Homo sapiens: one gene and its partners. The protein of the gene in region 1 purifies or fractionates together with the protein of each later gene. This does not show direct contact. Each region holds a gene or a part of one and is shown in the gene's direction. Other genes may lie near its edges.

Region 1 (3,500 bases):
GTTAAGTATATTCACATTGTTGTTCAACAGATCTCTAGAACTTTTTCATCTTGCAAAACTGAAACTCTGTACCCATTGAACAACTGCCCATTCCCGCCCCAACCCAGCTGTCCTTGACAACCACTATTCTACTTTCTGTTTCTAGGAATTTGACCACTTTATACTTTGTGTCAGTGAGTCATATAGTATTTGTATTTTTGTGGTTGGCTTATTTCACTTATAATGTCTATAATGTTTATATTATCTTTACCTTTTCTTTTTTTTTTGAGACGGAGTCCTGCTCTGTCACCTAGGCTAGAGTGTAGTGGTGTGATCTTGGCTCACTGCAACCTCTGCCTCCGAGGTTCAAGTGATTCTCTTGCCTCAGCCTCCCAAGCAGCTGGGACTACAGGCGCGTGCACCATGCCTGGCTAATTTTTCCATTTTTAGTAGAGATGGTTTTTTTTTTTTTTAACCATGTTGGCCCGCTGGTCTCGAACTCCTGACCTCAGGTGATCTGCCCGCCTTGGCCTCTGAAAGTGCTGGGATTACAGGTGTGAGCCACTGCGCCTGGCCTATATTATCTCTAAATGTAAAGATATATTCTTTACGTTTAAAGAGGTATGGTCTTTACATCTGTCAATGGACATTTTGGTTGCTTTTACCTCTTGACTATTGTGAAACATGCTATAATTAACTTGAGTGTACAGATACCTCTTGGAGATCCTGTTTTTAATTATTTTGGATATATGCCCAGAAGTGGGGATTGCTAGATCATATGGTAGTCTATTTTTAATTTTTTGAAGAGCTTTCATACTGTTTTCCATTGTGGCTCATCATTTTACAATCCCACAAACGGTGTACAAGGTTTTCAGTTTCTCCACGCCCTCATCAACACTTGTTATTTTCTGTTTCTTTGATATGGGCTATCCTTATGAGTGTGAGGTGATATGTCATTGTGGTTTTGGTTTGCATTTTTCTAATGATTAAGGAAGTCAAGCATCTTTTCACATGCATGTTGGCCATTTAAAAATCTTTGGAGAAATGTCTGTTCAAGTCCTTTTTCCATTTTTAATTGAGTTTTGTTGTTGTTGGCCTGTAGGAGTTCTTTATGGATTCCAGATATTAATCCCTTGTGAGATATAGAATTTTCAATATATTGTCTCCTATTCTGTAGCTGGCCTTTTTACACTATTGATCATGTCCTTTGATATATATTGTTTTTAGTTTCGTTAAGGCCCATTTGTCTACTTTTGCTTTTGTTTGCCTCTGCTTTTGGTGTTATATTCAAGAAATCATTGCTAAATCCAGTGTCATGAAGCTTTTCCCTATGTTTTCTTCTAGGAGTTTTATATTGGGTCTTACATTTAGGTCTTTAACAGATTTTGAGTTAATTTTTTTTATATGGTATAAGATAGGGGTTCAGCTTCATTATTTTCCATATGGATATCTAGTTTTTCCATTACCATTTGTTGAAGAGACTGTCATTTCCCCATTGCGTGGTCTTGGCATCCCTATTGAAGATCATTTGACCATATAGATGAGGATTTATTTCTGGGCTTTCTGTTGTTCATTAGTCTATATATCTGTATTTATGCCAATACCACACTGTTTTGATTACTATTGCTTTGTAATATATTTTAAATTTAGTACATATAAGACTTCCATCCTTGTTCTTTTTCAAGATTGTTTTGGATGTTTGGGGATTTCTTGAGATTCCATATGAATTTTGGGATGTTTTTTCTATTTTTGCAAAAAATGCCATTGGGATTGCATTGAATCTGTACATTGTTTTGTAGAATAGACATTTGAACAATATTAAGTCTTCTAATTTATGAACACGGGATGTCTTTTTATTGTACTCTTTAATTTCTTTCAGCAGTGTTTTGTTTTTAGCGTATAAGTCTTTTACCTACTTGCTTAAGTTTATTCCTAAGTATTTTATTCTTTTGATGCAATTGTTAATGGGATTGTGTTCTTAATTTCCTTTTCAGATTGTTCATTCTTAGGATATAGAAATATAACTGATTTTTGTGTGTTGTGTATCCTACAACTTTGCTGAATTTATTAGTTCTAACAGCTTTTTTTTTTGGTGTAGAATCTTTAGGGTTTCTACATATAAGATATGTCATCTGTGAATAGAGATAATTTTACTTCTTCCTTTCCAGTTTGGATGCCTTTATTTCTTTTTCTTGCCTCATTGCTCTGGCTAGAACTTCCTGTGCTATGTTGAGTAGAAGTGATGAGTGGACATCTTTGTCTTATTCCTGATCTTAGAAGAAAAACTTCCAGTATTTCAAAATTGGGTATGATGTTAGCTGTGGGCTCATCATAAATGACCTTTATTATGCTGTGATACTTTTCCTTTTGTTGCCCTCCCTCCGTTTTTTTTTTTGCCTATATATCCCCAACCTTTTCACAGAACAGTGCTCACATTCTTTATACCAAACTTGTTTTTACCCTGAGAAGATCTTACCCTGTAGTCTTCTTGAGTGGAAGCTGCCTTGTCCTTTCTTTCTTCTTCTTCTTTTTTTTTTCCCCCATCAGGTCATTTTATTATTATGGTTTTTACAAATTTTGTTTTATTTTAATAGTTTTTGGGGAACAGGTGGTGGTTTGTGGTTACATAGATAAGTTCTTTAGTGGTGATTTCTGAGATATTGGTGCACCCGTTACCCGAGCAGCGTACACTGTACCCAGTGTGTAGTCTTTTATTCCTCACCCCACTCCCACCTTTCCCCCTGAGTCCCCAAAGTCCCTTATATCATTCTCATGCCTTTGTGCCCTCATAGCTTAGCTCTCACTTATAAATGAGAATATATGATATTTGGCTTTCCATTCCTGAGTTACTTCGCTTAGAGTAATGGTCTCCAACTCCATCCAGGTTGCTGCAAGTGCCATTCTTTCTTTTTTTTTTTTTTTTTTTGAGCCGGAGTCTCGCTCTGTCGCCCAGGCTGGAGTGCAGTGGCACGATCTCGGCTCACTGCAAGCTCCGCCTCCCGGCTTCATGCCATTCTGCCTCAGCCTCCCAAGTAGCTGGGACTACAGGTGCCTGCCACCGCACCCAGCTAATTTTTTGTATTTTTAGTAGAGACGGGGTTTCATCGTGTTAGCCAGGATGGTCTCGATCTCCTGACCTCGTGATCCGCCCGCCTCGGCCTCCCAACATGCTGGGATTACAGGCGTGAGCCACCGCGCCCGGCCCATTATTTCAGTTTATTTTATGGCTGAGTAGTATTCCATGGTGTATATATACCACATTTTCTTTAGCCACTTGTTGGTTGATGGGCATTTAGGTTGGTTCCATATTTCTGCAATTGCAAATTTTGCTGCTATAAACATGCATATGCAAGTGTCTTTTTCATATAATGACTTATTTTCCTTTGGGTAGATACCCAGTAGTGGGATTGCTGGATTTAATGGTAGTTCCGCTTTTAGTTATTTAAGGAATCTCCATACTGTTTTCCATAGTGGTTGTATTAATTTACATTCCCACCAGCAGCGTAAGTGTTCCCTTTTCA
Region 2 (3,500 bases), on another chromosome or scaffold:
CCTTGCCAAAGGTCAGCGCTCAGGGATGGAGCTGAGCCTGTTCTGTGCTCTGCTCAATGTGTCCCTGGGCAGAGCCAGGCCTGTGGGCCTTTTCTCTGAACCCGGGGTGCTCAGAGAAGACTTCCATTTGCCTGTGTAACGCCCCTGCCCCAGCCCAGGGCTCCCCTGGACTTCCTTGCTTCCAGGCTGAGAGAGAGACCAGCTTTGAAGGAGGATGTTTTTTCCCCTGCAGGGAAGTTCTGGCACATCGCTGACCTGCACCTTGACCCTGACTACAAGGTATCCAAAGACCCCTTCCAGGTGTGCCCATCAGCTGGATCCCAGCCAGTGCCCGACGCAGGCCCCTGGGGTGACTACCTCTGTGATTCTCCCTGGGCCCTCATCAACTCCTCCATCTATGCCATGAAGGAGATTGAGCCAGAGCCAGACTTCATTCTCTGGACTGGGTGAGTACAGTTGAGGTGGCAGCTACCCTTTGCCAGGCATCTGCTATGTGCTACATACCAGTCTGGCCCTTTGCCCACATTATCTCCCTTAATCCTCACATCAGTCTCACGTGAGGCTGAGGAACCTAAAGCTCAAAGGAATTTTGTAACTTGCCCGGGGATTCCTGAGTCCAACTGATTCCACAGTCTGTGTCCTCGACCTCCATGTCTCCTGGCTGTGGCAGAACGCAGCTCTCAATCAGGCTTTTGGACGTGGTCCTGGCATGCCTGGGCACCCGGAGAGTGTCCAGGTTTTAAGCTATGGGTGGACACTGGAGCCATTTCCCCTGGGGCTTAGGGACTCTAAGTCTGAGAGGTCCAAGTGCAGGGAGGGAAGAAGTTATGAGGGCTGAAGGTGGCCCAGCCTGGGGTCCTAGTGTCCTGGCCAGCTGCTGGCCACCCCTGGGCTGCCCAGTGGTCCTGGATTTTCTCACCAGTCAGAGCTCTGCTCTACAGAGTGACAGCTTGAGGGCCGATCCCACTCAGCCGCAGAGACCCAGTTTCTGCTTCCTGTCCAAGGTTGCTGCTCTAATTCCTTCAACTTTCCTGGGAACTTGCCTCCTTATCATTCAAGATTCCCCCATTCCGGCTGGGTATAGTGGCTCATGCTTGTAATTCCAGCACTTTGGGAGGCCGAGGCAGTGGATCACCTGAGGTCAGGAGTTTGAGACCATCCTGGCCAACATGGTGAAACCCCGTCTCTACTAAAAATACAAAAATTAGCCTGGCGTGGTAGTGCACGCCTGTGGTTCCAGCTACTCGGGAGGCTGAGGCAGGAGAATCGCTTGCATTTGGGAGGTAGAGGTTGCAGTGAGCCAAGATCACACCACTACACTCCCAGCCTGAGTGACACAGCAAGACTCTGTCTCAAAAAAAAAAAAGAAAGAAAAAGAAAAAAAGATACCCCCATCTCCTCGCTTGCTCCCTCACTTGGCAGGGCAACAAGTCGTGCTCAGTTGTGGGGTAGATGCTAGGGATCTGAGATGATGGACACCCACACTTGGCTCCAAGGAGCTCACGTTCTTGTGGGCAATGCAGACAAACCCATTGACCCTACCCTTACATCCAAGCAAGGAGAGAGAGTCACCTGGGGGGATGTGGGAACTTCACAGGGCACATGATCCCATCTGGCAGGATTAGGGGAAGGACATCCTGCAGGAGGTGGTGGAGCAGGGGAGCTCTCGAGGAAGGCTGGAAGGAATTCTGACTTTGCGCTCCCTCTACCAGCCTCAGTGGACACTTCTATAAGGCAGGGTGAAACCCATGATGCCCCTAGCTGTGATGTGGTTTGTGGGTGTGACCAGGAAGGACCCTCAGATGAACCTGCCAGGCTGGACACATAAGAAGACATGTGACATTGTCTCAGGAGGGGCCTGGACAGCTCTGGCTTCCTTGGGCTCAGGAATCAATCTAAGAAGAGAGTGAGATTTGGTCCATGACCTTGGGCCTGCTCCCTTGAGGGGAGCTTCTGATTTCTCCGAGAAGGGAGAGCATGTGTAGCATTCAGACAGATGGGATCCCTCAGGAAATTCATGATCCTTTAACAGATGCACATTTTTTTTTTTTTTTGAGATGGAGTTTCGCTCTTTTTGCCCAGGCTGGAGTGCAATGGCGTGATCTTGGCTCACCACAATCTCCGCCTCCTGGGTTCAAGCGATTCTCCTGCCTCAGCCTCCCGAGTAGCTGGGATTACAGGCATGCGCCACCACGCCCGGCTAATTTTGTATTTTTATTAGAGACAAGGTTTCTCCATGTTGGTGAGAGTGGTCTCAAACTCCCGACCTCAGGTGATCTGCCCGCCTCAGCCTCCCAAAGTGCTGGGATTGCAGGCGTGAGCCACTGCACCCGGCCACAGTTGCACCTTTTTTTCCTGGGAAATCTCTGAGACCTTGAAGAGGTACACAGCATCAGATGAGAAGATCTCTAGGACCCTTTACAATTCTTCAATTATAATAAAATTTGACTTCTAAGAGAGCTGCAGTCCCTTTGAGGATGGCCATTAGAAATTAGGTATGTTTTACTACTCAGGAGGCTGAGGCAGGAGAATCGCTTGAACCTGGGAGACGGAGGTTGCAGTGAGCCGAAATTGCGCCACTGCACTCCAGCCTGGGTGACAGAGCGAGACTCCATCTCAAAAAAAAAAAAAAAAAGAAATTAGGTGTTTTTTTGTTTTTTTTTTTTAAGATGGAGTCTCGCTCTGTCGCCCAGGCTGGAGTGCAGTGGTGCGATCTCGGCTCACTGGTGCCCCCTACCACGCCTGGCTAATTTTTGTATTTTTAGTAGAGACAGGGTTTCACCATATTGGCCTGGCTGGTCTCGAACTCCTGACCTTATGATCCGCCTGCCTCGGCCTCCCCAAGTGCTGGGATTACAGGCGTGAGTCACCGCCCCCGGCCTAGGTGTGTTTTTTATCAGACAGAATTAGATTCTCTAACCTAGAAATTAAAAATATGAAATTTTGTCCCTGTGTCTTTGGGTTTCCGGCCTGTCCCCAGGGAGTTTTCAGGGCAAAACAGCCCCTCTTGCTGCCCTAATGTGGGTATCAGAGACACTATAGGATGCAGTGGCTGTGAGCATAGACTCTGGGGCCAGGCTGACTGGGCTCAAATCTTGGCCCCACCACTTTCTAGTGGTGTACACTTAGGTACAATTTTTCCCCCGTGTCTCTGGTGCTTGATTTAGGATAGGCAAAATTCTTAACTTTTCTGTGTCTTGGTTTCTTTATCTGTCAAACGGGCCTAAACTAATAATAGAATTTACATTGCAGTGTTATAATGGGGAAAAAATTAGTGGCTGTGGCAACAACACACAGAAAGTGCCTGGCAGAAAGTCAGCCGGTGTGAGCTTCTAGCAGCAGTATTAATACTATTATGCTAATTAGTTTCCCTGGGGGAATACCTGGGCAGCAGAGGCCCCAGGATTTTGACTGTCCGGACGTCTCCCCATCCCTACACTCCACCTGCCACCATTCTCCTCCCCTTGCCAAGCATTTCTAAGGTGGACCCAAGAATTTTG
Region 3 (3,500 bases), on another chromosome or scaffold:
TTATGTCTGACTAGAACATAAAAGTATTAATAATTCACAGGTGTTGTCATCTGCGTTTAGCTGGCTATAGCTATAAGATAGATCGTGGTTAACATTATTTGAGCATAGAACAAACCTCATAGTTTCTGTTGAGATTTTATTAGTCTCATTTTAAAAGACAGTATTGCTAGGAGTATAAGAGCAGTTATGTGCCTATTTTTTTTCCCATCACTCCTGTCACTGTGTCAAAGCTTAGGACATTCTAATTTTGCTTTTCTTCCCTTGTTGTATCTTAAGGTGTGACTGCTGCTTCTTGGTCTAAGTGTTTTGATAGAAAATAATGGGCTAGAGCTTTATGGTACTTTTTTAGAGCATATTGTCCTTAAAAACTAGTTTCATTTGAGGCATGACTATTCATTTCAGCTTTAAAGCACTTTATGAATCCTTAACTATATTACCATTTGCCATGCTGGAACTTCTGAGTACAGCGAATTCTCACTAATTGACCAATTTTTGAAGAAGCTGTAATATTTATTTTTTTATGAAAAGTGGTTTTACTTTTTCAGTACACACACAATTAGGTCCATTCTCCAAGAAAGGATTTTAGATTATCTACCTTAGTGAATGTATAGAAATGATTTAGCAAAATACAAATAAAGTTTCTTGATGTTTGGGATGTTAAAAGGTTTCTTTTCTTTCTATGGTCTAAATTATATAGTGTCACTTTTTAAGCAAGCCTTTTCTTGATAAATAAAATAAAAGCTACTTTAATATTTACTTTTATTCCATCTGAATTATTCCAAAACAGTAGTAAAATTTAAGATATTTCATAGAATTGACATTGCACAATTCAGTGATAAAGTGACACTGCTTGTTAAAAATTAGAAGTGAATATAATAAAGAAGTTATTTCTGTGACCAAGGAGTAATAAATGAACTCTCTGCTCTGCCAACAGACCAAGTCTGTGTTTGAGATTGGACTCTGCAGTAATAGAATGTTTTGCTATGCAGTTCTTGGATCCATCATGGGACAATTACTAGTTATTTACTTTCCTCCGCTTCAGAAGGTTTTTCAGACTGAGAGCCTAAGCATACTGGGTAAAGAAAACGTTATCTTTATCATTTATGTATTTTAGATAAATCATATTTTCTAATGTGTTTGTTTTAATTTTAAAATTCTTTTAAAATAGCAAAATAAGTAACTCACTTGATTTGAAAAAGGAGTCTATTTTTTCACTTGGGGAAGCTCAGGGGAATTACTCTCCTAACTCCAGGGTTTTGGTTTTTGCTCTTTTATAGGTTATCAATTGTTATAAAAATCATAATACGTGATTCTCAAATATAGCAAATCAAAACCTGCTCTAGAGTATAGTTTATAACTTTTTATGTACTATGCCATCTTGTATGAAGAGAAAACTAGACTTAATCTCCCTGAAAACCAAGTTGCTCTCTTCTTTAAAGTTAGAATTTTCAGTAAACTAATAATTTCATTATTCTTTCTTGTTTGTACATTCTAATTTCACAAAATGTCAGTCTGACCAAATAGCAGAATGTTTTATAAAGACTATTTGGAAATTACACATTTTTCTTACATTACCATTTATTAAATGTATAATACAGTGCATTTAAAAATTAGTTTTCCTGTGTAGGTGTGAGGAATGATATATTTGACAGTAATGCTATCCTTTATTGAGTTCTCAATTTGGGTATTTATGAAAAGGAGTTATACAGTTTCACTGTATTTTTTCTTGTAAGTTAAAATTTACCTTAAAATTGAACTAGTTGAATTTCAGTATTTTAATTCCATATTCACATTTCTTCCTCTTTTTAAAAAAATGGCATTTTAAGGAAACATCTGCAATTTTCCAAGCAGTAAATAAGAATTGAGATAGTGTGGATAGTATTGTAAAGACAAGTCTTCTATGCTTTGAAATAGAACATATTAATGTCAAATTTTTAATCTTCAGATAGGCATTGTCATTCAAATTGTCTACTACTGTTGATACAGTACTTTTTTAAAGGGCTGTGTGATCTATGAAATAAACTCCTTTTGTTGGTGATACTGTTAAAGGCTAGCCACATAAGGTTTCAGGGAAAGTGGTCAGAGGACTTGGGTTCTAATTCTGGCTGCTGCCTTTCCTAGTTATGTGACTTTGGATAAGTCACTTAATATCTTTTTTTCTTTTCTTATTTTTAACTGAGGGTGATTGTGCCTGCCTTATGGAATAGTTGTGAAACAATGTGTTTGAAAGCTGTGGTGGCCAGGCGCCATGCCTCACGCCAGTAATCCCAATACTTCGGGAGGCTGAGGCAGGCAGATCACTTGAGGTCAGGAGTTCAAGACCAGCCTGTCCAAAATGGTGAAACCCCCTCTCTACTAAAAATACGAACATTAGCCAGGTATGATGGCACATGCCTGTAATCCCAGCCACTTGGGAGGCTGAGGCAGGCAAATGGCTTGAACCCAGGAGGCGGAGGTTGCAGTGAGCTGAGATCATGCCACTGCATTCCAGCCTGGGTGACAGAGCAAGACTTCATCTCAGAAAAAAAAAAAAAAAAAAAAAAAGTTGTGTTAAAATGCTAGAAAAATGTAAGCTATTAAGCTTTGCAACTGTAAGTTTCAAAGAAATGTAAAACCCAACTTATTTTCTCTTGCAGATCTGTTGTTTCTTTTGGGTCTCACCTCATCAGTGTGCATAGTGGCAGAAATTATAAAGAAGGTTGAAAGGAGCAGGGAAAAGATCCAGAAGCATGTTAGTTCGACATCATCATCTTTTCTTGAAGTATGATGCATATTGCATTATTTTATTTGCAAACTAGGAATTGCAGTCTGAGGATCATTTAGAAGGGCAAGTTCAAGAGGATATGAAGATTTGAGAACTTTTTAACTATTCATTGACTAAAAATGAACATTAATGTTAAAGACTTAAGACTTTAACCTGCTGGCAGTCCCAAATGAAATTATGCAACTTTGATATCATATTCCTTGATTTAAATTGGCTTTTGTGATTGAGTGAAACTTTATAAAGCATATGGTCAGTTATTTAATTAAAAAGGCAAAACCTGAACCACCTTCTGCACTTAAAGAAGTCTAACAGTACAAATACACTATCTATCTTAGATAGATATATTTTTTTTTATTTTTAAATATTGTACTATTTATGGTGGTGGGGCTTTCTTACTAATACACAAATAAATTTAATCATTTCAAAGGCATTCTATTTGGTTTAGAAGTTGATTCCCAGGAGTGCCATATTTCAGCTACTGTATTTCCTTTTTCTTGTAATGTAAGCAGCTCAGATACCATGTGCTATCATTTTTGTATCAAGTTTTTTGCACAGGATGTGACCACTGTCAGATCACTGTTCTTTTCTTTCTTTTTGTGATTGAAAAGCCTATACTACAATTTGAAGTAAATTTTTGTTTTTCTTAGTAAGTGTAAATGGTTGCTTTATTTTTATTTTAAAAAGGTATGTCTTTGGTTTGGCAGAATTCATGCAGGGCTATCAAGTGGTGTTCTAG
Region 4 (3,500 bases), on another chromosome or scaffold:
CGGCAAAGGGTTGCCTGGCTGTAGGGTAGAGCAGGTCAACAAGGGAATGGGTGGGGACTGATACTTCAGCCACCTGTGGACCAGGCACCGTGCTTGGCACTTTCTACATCATCTCTTTTAGTCTTCCAGAAATGCTAAGTAACCTGCCTAGGCTCTGCTAAGTGTGTTGTAAATGGAAAAAGCAAATTGGCAAACAGTACGTGTAAGATGGTCCCATTTTTCAGGAGGCTGAGGCAGGAGAATGGCGTGAACCAGGGAGGTGGAGCTTGCAGTGAGCCAAGATCGTGCCACTGAACTCCAGCCTGGGCGACAGAGCGAGACTCTGTCTCAAAAAAAAAAAAAAGATGGTCCTATTTTTTAAAAACAGTGGGCATATGTATGTAATTTCTAATAGACAAATAACTCCCACAAAGTATGTATTTTTATTGTCATGTTACATGTGAAGAAACAGGCTCAGAGATGACCTGCCTGGGTGTGTCCCCAGCTGCCCACCCTAAAGCTTGTGCTTTTCCAGGATCCCCCCTGCCTCTCCCCGAGAGCATCTGCCAGAATTCATTTATGGATGAGGAAGCTGAGGCCAGGAGAAGCTCAGCCATCCCAAGGCACACAGCACATTGAGTCATGACCATTTAGGGCTGCAGGAGACATCAGCTCAATAGAAGATTTGGGTGTGGGAGCCCCCAGGGCCAGGGAGGTATGAGCCTTATTCATGTGAGCATCCTCCAGACGATGGTGGCTGCCTGGGGAGTGCTGTACCCGGAGGACTGTGGAGCTTGGTCCAGGGACAGCAGGGAAAGTGCCATGACCAGTTGGTGCCATGAGCCCTGGGTTGCACTGAGGGGCTGACCCATTCCCAGAGTTCGTGCTTCCCTGGCCTTGGGGAAGGTGGGAAGGGAGGGAGGGAGGGAATTCCCCTGCATGGGGCACTGCATCAGGGCAGTTAAATGTTTAACTCTGTTAAACACTTGCACCAGGCTAGGCGGGGTCGCTGAGTTCTCTAGACTGTCGGGGACTCACTGTTTGGCCCTGGGCACACACCACTTAACCTCTTTGAGCTCCTGCTCTCTCTGCTAGAGGATACCCGCTGTGCCTAACCTCACCAGCTTTCAAGAGTCTCAAAGGCAGTAATAGACATGAAAGAGCTTTGAAAAGGCCAGGAGTGCTGAACAGAAGCCGGGTGTCGCTGTTACACCCCGATGGTGCTGGGCGCTTGTCTGCAGGCTGATCACAATGCCCTCTGTCATTTCAGCTGAATAGCATTGGCAATTACTACAAGCCGTGGTTCTTTAAGCATGTGGAGAACTATCTGAAGACAAACCGAGAGGGCCTGGAGTACATTCCCTTGAGACACTACTACCACCGCCACACGCGCAGCATCTTCTGGGAGCTCCAGGTGAGGCTTAGGTTTCTGTAGCCCTGGCTCCTCCAGGCCAGCTGGGCAGGGAGCCCGGACAGTTAACACTGTAGCCATACTCTCTCCCTTCAGGGTAAAGAGTGGCTTTGTCCTAAGGAACTGCAATGCCTTCTTAAGCAGCAACACAGTCGTTTCCTTCTGAAGGAACCAACTACCTTCAGTTCAAGCAGCAGGCTCTTAGCAAGCATCTGCTTGGTGCTGGGGAGTAAGCCCCTGGGCCGGTACTTTGGGGAACACAGACCTGTTCCGCCCTTGAGGAAGGGTTAGCCTCTAGCCACGGTGAGCAGACAGATCCCTGCACTGTAAAGGGCCGCAGGAACATTAGTAGGAAGTGGCTAGTTCTGCCTAGGGCTCGAGGTAACAGCCAAGCCTGGCTGTGAAAGGTGAGTGAGAATTTGCTGTTGCATGTGTAGATGGGTGGGTGGATGAGGAGCAGTGACACTTTAAGTGGGGGAAGGTCAGGAAGAACCCCTCAGGAGATGACTTTGTGAGCAGGGACCTGAACATAGGGAAGGCAGACCAGGAACAACTCTGGGGAGGACTCTGGAACTCTGTTCACAGGCAGAGGGACAGCCAGAGCCCAGGGCTTGAGCTGGGCTAACAGGAAATTAAACATTATAAAATGGACAGTTCAGGGTAGTTTAGTACATTCACAGTGTTGTGCAACCACTACCTCTGTGTAGTTCCAAACATTTTCATCTCTGAAAAGGAAACCCTATACCCATTAAGCAGCCACTCCCTATTCTCTCCCCTTTCCCCAGCCTGTGGCAACCACCAATTCATCTTCTGTCTCTGCAGATTTACTTATTCTGGATATTTCACATATATGGAATCATTCAGTATGTGCCTTTTGTGACTGGCTTCTTTTACATAGCATAATGTTTTCATGTATCAATATTTCATTTCTTTTTATGGCGGGATAGTAGTTCATTATATGAGAGACCACATTTTGTTTTGTCACTCATCTGTTGATGGACATGTGGGTTGTTTCAACCTTTTGGCTACTGTGAACAGTGCTGCTACAAACCTTCATGTGCATGTATTTGTTTGAATACTTGTTTTCAGTTCTTTGGGATATAGAACTAGGAGTGGAATTGCTGGGTCATATGCTAATTCTGTGTCTAACTTTCTGAGCAACAACCAAACTCTTTTCCACTGAGGCTGTGCCATTTTTCATTCCCACCAGCAATGTATGAGCGCTCTATTTTTTCAACATTCTCACCAACACTTGTTATTTTCTGGTTTTTAAATTATTAGTATTATTATTATAGCCATTCTGGTGGGTTTATGGTATTGACTTGCATTTTCCTTGAAATTAATGATGCTGAGCATCTTTTTATATGCATGTTAACCGTTTTGTATATCTTCTTTGGTGAAAAGTCTATTTGAATCCTTTGCCACCTTTTAAAATTTGGTCATTTGTCTTTGTTGTTGAGATGTAAGAGTTCTTTGTGTATTCTGGATACTAGACCCTCATCAGATATATGATCTGCAAACATTTTCTCCAATTCTGTAGGTTTCTTTTCATTGTCTTGGTAACGTCCTTTGATGCACAGAAGTTTTTAATTTAGATGAATTCCAATTTATCTATTTTCCCTTTTGTTTGTGCTTTTAGTGCCATATATAAGAATTTATTGTCAAGTCCAAGCCCCTTTGTTTTCTTCAAAGACCTTTATAGTTGCAGCTCTAATCTTTAGGTTGTTGAGTGGGGTAGGAGTCCAGGCTCCATTCTTTTGCTTATAGCTATCCAGGTGTCCCAGCAAGGCTGCATGTGTTTGAAAAACAGCAAGAAGCCTTCGGAGCCAGCATGCCCACGCTGAGCTATGGTGAGGAATGAGGTCAAACAGGCACCAGAGGCTAGATCATATGGCTCCTTGTAGGTTAGGAAGGACTTTATATTTTATTCTAAGTATAATAGGAAGCCAATGAGGGCTTTGAACAGGAAAGTGGCATGGCCTGATTTTTGTTTTAAAAGAATAACTGTGACAGCTGGATAGAGTGGATGGGGACGGGAGTGGACAAGAGTGGAAGAGTAGAAGAAAGAAGATACTGTTGTCTGGGCAGCAGCAGAGGAGAAGTGTCAAAT

Evidence for each region. The genes of interacting proteins can lie anywhere in the genome.
Region 2: the proteins of AGK (region 1) and SMPDL3B purify together in Homo sapiens (affinity purification with mass spectrometry, with the first as the bait; one large-scale study listed by BioGRID). This does not show direct contact.
Region 3: the proteins of AGK (region 1) and ATP2C1 purify together in Homo sapiens (affinity purification with mass spectrometry; one large-scale study listed by BioGRID and IntAct). This does not show direct contact.
Region 4: the proteins of AGK (region 1) and DHCR24 purify together in Homo sapiens (affinity purification with mass spectrometry, with the first as the bait; one large-scale study listed by BioGRID). This does not show direct contact.

Annotation. Positions count from the first base shown.
Region 1 is NC_000007.14:141,557,910-141,561,409, forward strand, and holds part of AGK (acylglycerol kinase, mitochondrial isoform 1 precursor), read left to right. Parts: intron 1-3,500. UniProt on the Homo sapiens protein: Lipid kinase that can phosphorylate both monoacylglycerol and diacylglycerol to form lysophosphatidic acid (LPA) and phosphatidic acid (PA), respectively. Does not phosphorylate sphingosine. Phosphorylates ceramide.
Region 2 is NC_000001.11:27,945,000-27,948,499, forward strand, and holds part of SMPDL3B (acid sphingomyelinase-like phosphodiesterase 3b isoform 1 precursor), read left to right. Parts: intron 1-232; coding exon 233-446; intron 447-3,500. UniProt on the Homo sapiens protein: Lipid-modulating phosphodiesterase. Active on the surface of macrophages and dendritic cells and strongly influences macrophage lipid composition and membrane fluidity. Acts as a negative regulator of Toll-like receptor signaling.
Region 3 is NC_000003.12:130,998,584-131,002,083, forward strand, and holds part of ATP2C1 (calcium-transporting ATPase type 2C member 1), read left to right. Parts: intron 1-934; coding exon 935-1,076; intron 1,077-2,636; coding exon 2,637-2,767; 3' UTR 2,768-3,500. UniProt on the Homo sapiens protein: ATP-driven pump that supplies the Golgi apparatus with Ca(2+) and Mn(2+) ions, both essential cofactors for processing and trafficking of newly synthesized proteins in the secretory pathway.
Region 4 is NC_000001.11:54,863,196-54,866,695, reverse strand, and holds part of DHCR24 (delta(24)-sterol reductase precursor), read left to right. Parts: intron 1-1,249; coding exon 1,250-1,393; intron 1,394-3,500. UniProt on the Homo sapiens protein: Catalyzes the reduction of the delta-24 double bond of sterol intermediates during cholesterol biosynthesis.